Linked DNA regions of Homo sapiens. The protein of the gene in region 1 purifies or fractionates together with the protein of each later gene. This does not show direct contact. Each region holds a gene or a part of one and is shown on either strand. Other genes may lie near its edges. The genes, in order: SDE2, SLX4 and HSPBAP1.

Region 1 (3,652 bases):
TTGTTGATCAGTTGTTTTGTTTAATAAGCCATTCTGTTTGGAAATGAAGTATACATCATTTTCATGGTGTATACTTTCTGCCTTCATATTAATATCTTTTAAAATTATTTAGAAATACCATACCCATTAGACATACAAAAGGCTTCTAATGTGTAAACATTAAACAGATACAAAATGTATTACATATCTCATTTAATGTTTACAACAGCTCTTTGAGGTAGACAGTATTTTAAAGACAAGAATAGTCGTTCATGTTACCTCATTGCAGATAGCCTGAGCTCCCTTGCTCCTCTCTCCCGCCATTATATTTGTCTGGGAGAACCCCAGACAGCATAAATCCATCTCTCCACCTGTTCTGCCCTGGCATCTGGGCAGTGACTGTGATAGAGAACTATAATCACATAGCTCAGTCTCCATACATCCACCAGCCTGGTGCTGCTTGGTAATTCTGTATTTCCTTGGTCCAGAGTGGGCTTTTACTGGGTTACAGGACTGCTTAGAGTATTGATTCATGTAGGCTCTGGGGCAGCTACACAGAATCTGGGGCTGCCCAGCATCTTAGGCTATCTTCAGCAACTTTGCTCATTTTTGCTCATTTTTCATGTATTTATGTCTCCTATGGTGTACTTATATAGGTGTATTAAAAACCACACTCTTGACTCCTTCCTTCTCTACTTCTTATTCCTACCTGCACTTTTTAGGATTGAGGACTACTTTTGATGTTCAATTTAATTTTACCTGTTTAAGAAAGTCAGAAAATGGGACCTCCACAGTTATTTAATCTGAGTCCTGCATAGTCTTCTACCTTGACTCAGATTACCTATCAGAGAAGAAGAAGCAGTTTTTGTTGTCACCGCAAAGACTGAAGTTTCTTCTATATGTGATGATTAGGTAATATTGGGAAAAAATTATACCCAAAATGCATCATGTGAAATGACTTTTTCTCCTAGTAGTTTACATTTTCAATTCAACAAATATTAATTGAACACCCTCTGTTGTAACCAGAGTAATAAAAAGACAGCTAGGTCCCTTCTTGTAACAAACTTAGATTATTATCTCATAAAAGGCATTAAAAAAACAAATTTGTCTCTAGAATGTTCCAGTGGAAAACTTCTTTGTGAAATGCAATGGAGCACTCATTAACACCAGTGACACAGTGCAGCATGGAGCTGTTTATAGTTTGGAACCCAGACTTTGCGGTGGAAAAGGAGGTAGGACCTGAACATTGACTACTTAGTTGTAACACATTTGCAGTCTTTATTCATTTATTTTCATATTCTGCTGCTGACATTTGCTGTCTTTAGCCATGGTATTAAATTAACAACCTTCTTAGTCTCTTTAGTATGCCAATATTGTTTTACCTTATGAATTCTTTTATTTACTTAACCTGATTTTGGACATTTTCTCTCTTATTCTTTTGTTTTCTTTCTTTTGAGACACTGCCTTGTTTTGTCGCCCAGGCTGGAGTACAGTGGTACGATCACGGCTCACTGCAGCTTTGACCTCCTGAACTCAAGCAATACTCCCACCTCAGTTTCCCCAGTAGCTGGGACTATAGGCACATGCCACCATGCGCAGCTAATTTTTGTATTTTTTGTAGAGATGGGGTTTCGCCATGTTGCCCAGGCTGTCTTTTATTTTGGTCGAGGAAGAAATATTGTGTGATACAATTCCCACTTTGTTCAGCTGGATAGCTCTTAGGGAACCTAGGCTCTAAAACTTTGGGGGAAAATTAGATGAAGAGAGATGGCCATTATTCTGTTCAATTTGCTGAATAAAGAGTTTTTTTTCTAAATCTCCTTCTGCTTTAATCAGGATTTTGTCTCGTTTTTGTAGTTCCAAAGGAAGTCTAAAGTTACCTTAGGAAACACAATTGTTTATAAGTTGAGGCAGATTAAGGTTTTGTTTGTTTAACACAACTACTAGGAAAGATAACAAAGAGCGAAAACAATATAAACAGTTGTTGGTATTTCTCCTAATGTAGTAACATGTGATCCCTAAGCTTTCTCAAAATCTACAGTGATTTGGTTTGGTTTTCAGAGAGCTGACATCTCAGACTATATCCAGCTGTTTGAAATTGTATGATTAAGAATGAAGCGTGGGCTGGGCACGGTGGCTCACGCCTGTAATCCCAGCACTTTGGGAGGCCAAGGCGGGCGGATCACCTAGGTCAGGAGTTCGAGACCAGGCTAGCCAACATGGCAAAACCCCGTCTCTACTAGAGATATAAAAATTAGCCAGGTGTGGTGTTAGGAGCCTGTAATCTCAGCTACTTGGGAGGCTGAGGCAGGAGAATCACTTGAACCTTGGAGGTGGAGGCTGCAGTGAGCCGAGATTGTGCCACTGCACTACAGCCTGGGCGACACAGTGAGACTCTCTCAAAAAAAAAAAAAAAGAATGAAGCATGTGGCCAGGCATGGTGGCTCATGCCTGTAATCCCAACACTTTGAGAGTCCAAGGTGGGAGGACAGTTTGAACCCAGGAGTTTGAGACTAGCCTGGGCAAGATGGTGAGACCTTGGTCTCTACAAAAAAAAAAAAATAGCTAGCTGCATCGGTACACGCCTGTAATCCTAGCAACTTGGGAGGCTGTGGTAAGAGGATCCATTGAGCCCAGGAGTTCAAGGCTGCAGTGAGCTTTGATTACATCAAGCCATTGCCCTCTAGCCTGGATGACAGAGCAAGGCCCCATCTCTTAGGGGGGATAAAAAGAATGAATGAATGAAGCATGTTATATCAGCCAGTGGAGCTTAAAATTGCCTTTCCTTCTAAACTCATTGAAAAATCTCACTATATACTTTTTAAGTTCTTAATCTGAGAATCTTGGGATCTCTGTGATTGTGTAAAGCTTCTTTTTTTTTTTTTTGAGACAGAGCCTGGCTCTGTTTCCCAGGCTGGAGTGCAGTGGCACGAGCTCAGCTCACTGCAAGCTCTGCCTCCTGGGTTCACGCCATTCTCCTGCCTCAGCCTCCTGAGTAGCTGGGACTACAGGCGCCCGCCACCACGCCTGGCTAATTTTTTGTATTTTTTAGTAGAGACGGGGTTTCACTGTGTTAGCCAGGATGGTCTTGATCTCCTGACCTCATGATCTGCCCGCCTCAGCCTCCCAAAGTGCTGGGATTACAGGCGTGAGCCACTGCACCTGGCCTGGGTAAAGCTTTTTAAATATTCTAGCTGTACAGGTATTATACCGGTATGCAAATAACTAACACAAGGATAAATAATTAGGTTTGGGAAGGCTAGGTATTTTATCTCAGAACTATAAAATGAAAGGTGAAAGGCATGAGGTTAAATCAGTCTTTTTACTTTCGCTGCCTGAATTAGAACCTTGATGTTCATCTTTTCTTAAAAAAAAAAAAAAAGAAAGAAAGTAGAGATCATTGTTAATCTTGTGATACAGATTGTTTTCACAAATTCTGCTTTTATCCATCCTTGAACACATTTTAACCTGCTTTCTCCAAATACATCTGCTCAGGTTTTGGATCTATGCTCCGAGCACTTGGTGCTCAGATTGAGAAGACAACCAATCGAGAAGCTTGTCGGGATCTCAGTGGAAGGAGACTACGCGATGTCAATCATGAAAAAGCGTAAGATGCCCACCTTTTTTTGTGTTTTTGAGGAGAGACATATACTTTCCTATTAGTAGTGATTAT
Region 2 (3,615 bases), on another chromosome or scaffold:
GATATGCTGCTCCCAGTTCTGAGGGATGGTGGCAGCAGCAGCTTCCCCGGGTGCCCGAGTGGAAGAGCAGTGTCATGTGGATGTGAGAGTTAAATGTTCTTTTAAAAAAAATCAGGCCTCCGCCGGGCACAGTGGCTCACGCCTGTAATCCCAGCATTTTGGGAAGCCGAGGCGGGTGGATCACGTGGTCAGGAGTTCGAGACCAGCCTGGCCAACATGGTGAAACCCCGTCTCTACTAAAAATACAACAATTAGCCTGGTGTGGTGGCGTGTGCCTGTAGTCCCAGCTACTCGGGAGGCTGAGTCAGGAGAATCGCTTGAACCCGGGAGGTGGAGGTTGCAGTGAGCCGGGACTGCGCCACTGCACTCCAGCCTGGGCGACAGAGCAAGACTCTGTCTTTCAAAAAAAAAATCAGACCTCCTCACTCAGACTGCTCTGGCTAGGGGGCCATTTCCATCTACATGGAATATGGGGACCTGCTGCCCAGGGGTGACATGCACGAATCCTGTGTGTTGCCTCCCTGGGGAATGGTACGCAGAGAGAACTGGGAGGCTCACCCCGGCACCCAGCAGTCACACATGCTCCCTAAGGAGCTGACTGCAGACCTTTCTTCCCAAGCCCAGGCCAGCTGCATCCACCAGACCCAGAGACCACACGGGGGGCCCTTCCGCCCCCAGGTGTGTGAAACCCAGTTACTTATGGGAGGGAAAAGACCACTGTGGGCAACAAGCTTTGAAGACCGCCAACCTATCCAGTTCCTTCTTCAGCACCGGCGTCTCCATAATGGAATACTGTGGCATCGGCGTTATGGGCACTTTGGGGGGCAAGTTCTTCTTCCGATTAGCACCTTCTGGGTAAAACAAAAGAAGCACACGTTTTAGCATGAGGGACACGGATTTCCCACATCTGATCCCAGTAGCGTGACCAAGAGGAATAATGCACTTGAAGATAACCCAAGCATCGTTTTGCTCCATGAAAGCAACAGTGGTCACCCCTTCCCTGTCTGGAGCAGGGGCTTCCCAATGATAGCATCGGTGACACGCACTGAGGACCACACCTTGTATAACACGGGTGCCGGGTGAACAGAGCTCCTGGGGCCACTGAACCCAACAGCCCGGCACGTGACTAAAACTTATGCATGTAAACTTAAAAATATCTGACCCACAGTGACAACTTGAGACAATGGGCCACACTGATACTCTTCAAACAGGCTTAGACATCAGTTTTGCTTTTTAAAAATAATTCATCAATTTAAAAAAACCCAGTTAAAAAATGGGCAAAGGGGCCGGGCGCGGTGGCTCACGCCTGTAATCCCAGCACTTTGGGAGGCCGAGGTGGGCGGATCACGAGGTCAGGAGATCGAGACCATCCTGGCTAACACGGTGAAACCCCGTCTCTATTAAAAATACAAAAAATTAGCTGGGCGTGGTGGCGGGCGCCTGTAGTCCCAGCTGCTTGGGAGGCTGAGGCAGGAGAATGGCGTGAACCTGGGAGGCGGAGCTTGCAGTGAGCCGAGATCACACCACTGCACTCCAGCCTGGGCGACAGAGCAAGACTCTGTCTCAAAAAAAAAAAAAAAAAAGGGCAAAGGATGTGAACAGACATTTCTCCAGAGAAGATCTACAAATGGCCAATAAGCACATGAAAAGGTGCCCGACATCATTAGTCATCAGGGAAATGCAAGTCAAAACCACAGTGAGATACCACTGCACGCCCACTAGGATGGCCATAACAAAAAACACAGAGGGTTTGGGCAAAATGGCAGAACCCTATCTCTACAAAAAAAAAAAAAAAAAAATACAAAAAAAGTTAGCAGGGTGTGGTGGCCCAAGTCACCAATGTGGGCAGCTGTTTGTGGCTGGTTCCAGCTACTCGGGAGGCTGAGGTGGGAGGATCACCTGAGCCAGGAAGGTTGAGGCTGCAGCAAGCCATGAACACGCCACTGCACTCCAGCCTGGGCGACAGAGCAAGACCTTGTCTCAAAACAATAACAACAACAACAAAAACAGAATAACAAGTGTTGGTGGAGATTTAAAATGGTGCAGTCACTTTGGAAAACAGTCTCGCAGTTCCTCACAATGCTAAACACAGTTGCCATATGACCCAGCAATTCCACTCCTAAGTACAGAACCAAGAAGAAGGAAAACATGTCTACACGAAAACTTGCACATCAATATTCCTAAGTGGCATTATTAATAACCACAAATTAAAAACAACCCGTGTGTCCACTAGTAGATGAATGGATAAGCAAAATGTGGCATACCATCAGTGGGGTATTAGACATACAAAGGAATGTATGCCCAAAGCCAGGGCAACATAGCAAGACCCAGTCTCTACTAAAAAAAAAAAATTAGCTGGGCATGGTGGCAGCTGCCTGTAGTCCCAGCTACTCAGGAGGTTGAGGTGGGAGGATCACTTGAGCCTGGGAGGTCGAGGCTACAATGAGCTGTAATTGCGCCACTGCACTTCAGCCTGGGTGACAGAGCAAGACCCCTGACTCAAAAACAGGCCAGGCACAGTGGCTCAGGCTTGTAATCCCAGCACTGTGGGAGACCAAAGTGGGTGGATCACTTGAGGTTAGGAGTTCGAGACCAGCTTGGCCAACATGGTGAAACCCCATCTGTACTAAAAATACAAAAAAATTAGCCGGGCATGGCATGGCGATGGGCGCTTGTAATCCCAGCTACTCGGGAGGCTGAGGCGGGAGAATCGCTTGGACCCAGGAGGTGGAGGTTGCAGTGAGCCGAGATCGTGCCACTGCACTCTAGCCTGGGCAACAGAGAGAGGCTCCGTCTCAAAAAAAAAAAAAAAGAATAAAAAGGAATAAAATACTGATCCATGCTACAACATGTATGAATCTTGAAAACTGTATGCTAACTGAAAGAAGCCAGACACAGACACAAAAGGCCACATATTAGTTATATATGGCTCTGTTTATATGAAATGTCCAGGACAGGCAAATCCATAGAGACAGAAAGGTTCTTGGTTGCCAGGGCTGGGGGAAGGGGAAGGTGAGAGACTGCTCATGGGTACAGGATTTTTGAGATGATGAAAATGTTCTAGAATTAGAGAGTGGGGACAATTGTACAACACTGTGAATGTACTGAGAAGCACTGAACTGTCCATTTTAAAAGGGTGGATATTATGGTATGTGAATTATATCTAAATAAAGCTGTTACTTTAAAAAATAATAGGCTGGGCGAGGTGGCTCACGCCTGTAATCCCAGCACTTTGGGAGGCCGAGGTGGGCGGATCACCTGAGGTCAGCAGCTCAAGACCAGCCTGATCAACATGGTGAAACCCGACTCTACTAAAAATACAAAAATTAGCTGGGCGTGGTGCTGGGTGCCTGTAATCCCAGCTACTCGGGAGGCTGAGGCAGGAGAATCCCTTGAACCCGAGAGGTGGAGGTTGCAGTGAGCCGAGATAGCCCCACTGCACTCCAGCCTGGTGACACATTGGAAACAGTCAGACTTTGGTTCTTCTGCCTTTTATGACCATGGAGCCCTTTGAGCCCCCGATGAAAGCGGCAGGCTCTGTCTCCTGAGAAAAGCACGATTCTTCCTGTGGCCGCAGCGTCGTCCTGAAGCCCACCTCAGATCTGCTGTGCAGCC
Region 3 (3,652 bases), on another chromosome or scaffold:
TTTCAGGTAATCTGAGAGATACCTGAAAACCCCAGAAAGTCAATATAAAACTACCACAAAATAAAATAATTCAAATTAACACAAAAATCAATAGCTATCATATACACTAATAATATCCAGTTAGAAGACAGAATGGAAGAGAAGACCTTACCCTAGCAGCAAAAAAAGATGAAATATGGCAGTCCGCCCTTATCTGCAGTTTCGCTTTCCACAGTTTCAGTTACCCGTGGGCAATCTCAGTCAGAAAATATTAAGTGAAAAATTCCAGAATTAAACAATTTATAAGCTTTAAGTTTCATGCAATTCTGAGTAGTGTGATGAAATCTCTCACCATTCCACTCCACACAGTATACATCACCTGCCTCTGAGTCACTCAGTAGTTAGCTCAGTGATCAGATCACTGTCATGGTATTTGCAGTGCCTATATTCAAGGAACCCTTATTTTACTTAATAATAGCCCCAAAGTACAAGAGTTGTGATGCTGGCAATTTGGATATGCCAAAGACAAGGCATAAAGTGCTTCCTTTAAGTGAAAAGGTGAAAGTTCTCGACTTAATAAGGAGAAGGAAAACCAGCATGCTGAGGTTACTAAGGTCTATGGTAAGAAGAAATCTTCTATCTACAAAACTGTCAAGAGAAAAAATTATGGTAGTTTTGCTATCACACCTCAAACTGCAAAAGCTGCAGCCACAGTGCATAAGTGCTTAGTTAAAATGGATTAAGTTTGCATCTTAGCTAAGACATTACATTTGTAGGTGGAAGGCATGAACAGAAAAGTGTTGACTGATTACAATCGGGTTTGGTAATACTCGGGGTTTCAGTAATCCACTGGGGATCTTGGAATATATCCCCCGAGGATAAGGAGATACTACTGTATTTAGGAATAAACATTTAAAAGAAATGTGCAAAGCTTATGTGAGGAAAACTTTAAAACACAGCTGTAAAAACAAAAACAAACAAAACTGAACTTGGATACATGGAAAGGCACCTAATTTGTGGACAGAACAATTCAACATCATAAAGCTCAGATAAAATTTAATATGGATCAAAAAAAAAATCAAAAGGTTTTTTTTTTTTTTCCTAAAGCTAGACAAGCTGATTTTAAAGAACACATTAAAAAAACAGAGGCAAGAATAGCCAGAAAAACCCTGCAAAACAAAGCAATGGTCAGTCCTACTGATGTTAAAACATAAGACCTCACTAAATAAATAGGCAGAAAGACCAATGGACAAAATAGACCCAGATATGTTCAGGTATCTAGTATATGATTAAACAGACATTTCAAATCATGAAGGGAAAACAAACTGTAAAATAAATGATGGTCCTGACAATCCTATTACCATTTTGGAAAAGATAAAATTAGATCTCAGCTCTCTCCTCTCTCCTCTCTCCTCTCTCTCTCCTCTCCCCTCTCCCCTCTCCCCACGGTCTCCCTCTCCCTCTCTTTCCACGGTCTCCCTCTGATGCCGAGCCGAAGCTGGACTGTACTGCTGCCATCTCGGCTCACTGCAACCTCCCTGCCTGATTCTCCTGCCTCGGCCTGCCGAGTGCCTGCGATTGCAGGCGCGCGCCGCCACGCCTGGCTGGTTTTCGTATTTTTTTGGTGGAGATGGGGTTTCACTGTGTTGGCCGTGCTGGTCTCCAGCTCCTAACCGCGAGTGATCTGCCAGCCTCGGCCTCCCGAGGTGCTGGGATTGCAGACGGAGTCTCGTTCACTCAGTGCTCAATGGTGCCCAGGCTGGAGTGCAGTGGCGTGATCTCGGCTCGCTACAACCTCCACCTCCCAGCCGCCTGCCTTGGCCTCCCAAAGTGCCGAGATTGCAGCCTCTGCCCGGCCGCCACCCCATCTGGGAAGTGAGGAGCATCTCTGCCTGGCCGCCTATCGTCTGGGATGTGAGGAGCCCCTCTGCCCGGCTGCCCAGTCTGGAAAGTGAGGAGCATCTCTGCCCGGCCGCCATCCCATCTAGGAAGTGAGGAGTGCCTCTTCCCGGCTGCCATCCCATCTAGGAAGTGAGGAGCGTCTCTGCCCGGCCGCCCATCGTCTGAGATGTGGGGAGCGCCTCTGCCCGGCCGCGACCCCATCTAGGAAGTGAGGAGCGTCTCTGCCCGGCCGCCCCGTCTGAGAAGTGAGGAGACCCTCCGCCTGGCAACCGCCCCATCTGAGAAATGAGGAGCCCCTCCGCCCGGCAACCACACCGTCTGGGAAGTGAGGAGCGTCTCCGCCCGGCCAGCCGCCCTGTCTGGGAGGGAGGTCGGGGGGGTCAGCCCCCCTCCCGGCCAGCCGCCCCGTCTCGGAGGGAGGTGGGGGTCAGCCCCCTGCCCGGCCAGCCGCCCCGTCCGGGAGGGAGGTGGGGGGTCAGCGCCCCGCCCGGCCAGCCGCCCCATCTGGGAGGGAGGTGGGGGGGTCAGCCCCCCGCCCGGCCAGCCGCCCCGTCCGGGAGGTGAGGGGCGCCTCTGCCCAGCCGCCCCTACTGGGAAGTGAGGAGCCCCTCTGCCCGGCCAGCCGCCCCGTCCCGGAGGGAGGTGGGGGGGTCAGCCCCCCGCCCGGCCAGCCGCCCCGTCCGGGAGGTGAGGGGCGCCTCTGCCCAGCCGCCCCTACTGGGAAGTGAGGAGCCCCTGTGCCCGGCCGCCACCCCGTCTGGGAGGTGTACCCAACAGCTCATTGAGAACGGGCCATGATGACAATGGCGGTTTTGTGGAATAGAAAGGGGGGAACGGTGGGGAAAAGATTGAGAAATCGGATGGTTGCCGTGTCTGTGTAGAAAGAAGTAGACATGGGAAACTTTTCATTTTGTTCTGTACTAAGAAAAATTCTTCGGCCTTGGGATCCTGTTGATCTGTGACTTTACCCCCAACCCTGTGCTCTCTGAAACATGTGCTGTGTCCACTCAGGGTTAAATGGATTAAGGGTGGTGCAAGATGTGCTTTGTTAAACAGACGCTTGAAGGCAGCGTGCTCGTTGAGAGTCATCACCACTCCCTAATCTCAAGTACCCAGGGACACAAACACTGCGGAAGGCCGCAGGGTCCTCTGCCTAGGAAAACCAGAGACCTTTGTTCACTTGTTTATCTGCTGACCTTCCCTCCACTATTGTCCTATGACCCTGCCAAATCCCCCTCTGTGAGAAACACCCAAGAATGATCAATTAAAAAAAAAAAAAGAAAAAAAAATTAGATCTCAAACTTATACTATATCCTAGTGAAAAACTTCCAAATGGATAAGAGATCGAAATGCAAAAAACATGAAACAATCTAAATTCTAACACAAAACATTGGTGAATTCCTTTATGACCTGGAAAGGGTCATATGACCTTGGTTTCTAATTATGACTCAAAAACAATAAAGTTCAACAACAGATTTTGTTGGTGAGGCTGTGGAGGAAACAAGCACTTTCACATACTACTAATGGAAATGCAAAATGGCACAATCACAATGAAGCTGAATTTGGCAAAACCTAACAAAATTAAAGATACATTTACCCTATGACATGGCAAATCCATTGTTAAGATCTCCCCCAAAGACACACTTCAACAAATATAAAACAACATATGCACAAGGTTATTCAGTGGCATTATTTGTAATTACAAAAGACTGGAAACAACCCAAACATCTATCCTTAAAGGAACTAATGAACAGTAGAGCACCCATACAGT

The links.
Region 2: the proteins of SDE2 (region 1) and SLX4 purify together in Homo sapiens (co-immunoprecipitation; one large-scale study listed by IntAct). This does not show direct contact.
Region 3: the proteins of SDE2 (region 1) and HSPBAP1 purify together in Homo sapiens (affinity purification with mass spectrometry; one large-scale study listed by BioGRID and IntAct). This does not show direct contact.

The regions. Positions count from the first base shown.
Region 1 is NC_000001.11:225,992,825-225,996,476, reverse strand, and holds part of SDE2 (splicing regulator SDE2), read left to right. Parts: intron 1-1,093; coding exon 1,094-1,211; intron 1,212-3,474; coding exon 3,475-3,586; intron 3,587-3,652. UniProt on the Homo sapiens protein: Inhibits translesion DNA synthesis by preventing monoubiquitination of PCNA, this is necessary to counteract damage due to ultraviolet light-induced replication stress.
Region 2 is NC_000016.10:3,584,021-3,587,635, forward strand, and holds part of SLX4 (structure-specific endonuclease subunit SLX4), read right to left. Parts: exon of another isoform or gene 2,916-3,615; intron 852-2,915; coding exon 749-851; intron 1-748. UniProt on the Homo sapiens protein: Regulatory subunit that interacts with and increases the activity of different structure-specific endonucleases.
Region 3 is NC_000003.12:122,745,233-122,748,884, forward strand, and holds part of HSPBAP1 (HSPB1-associated protein 1), read right to left. Parts: intron 1-3,652. UniProt on the Homo sapiens protein: May play a role in cellular stress response.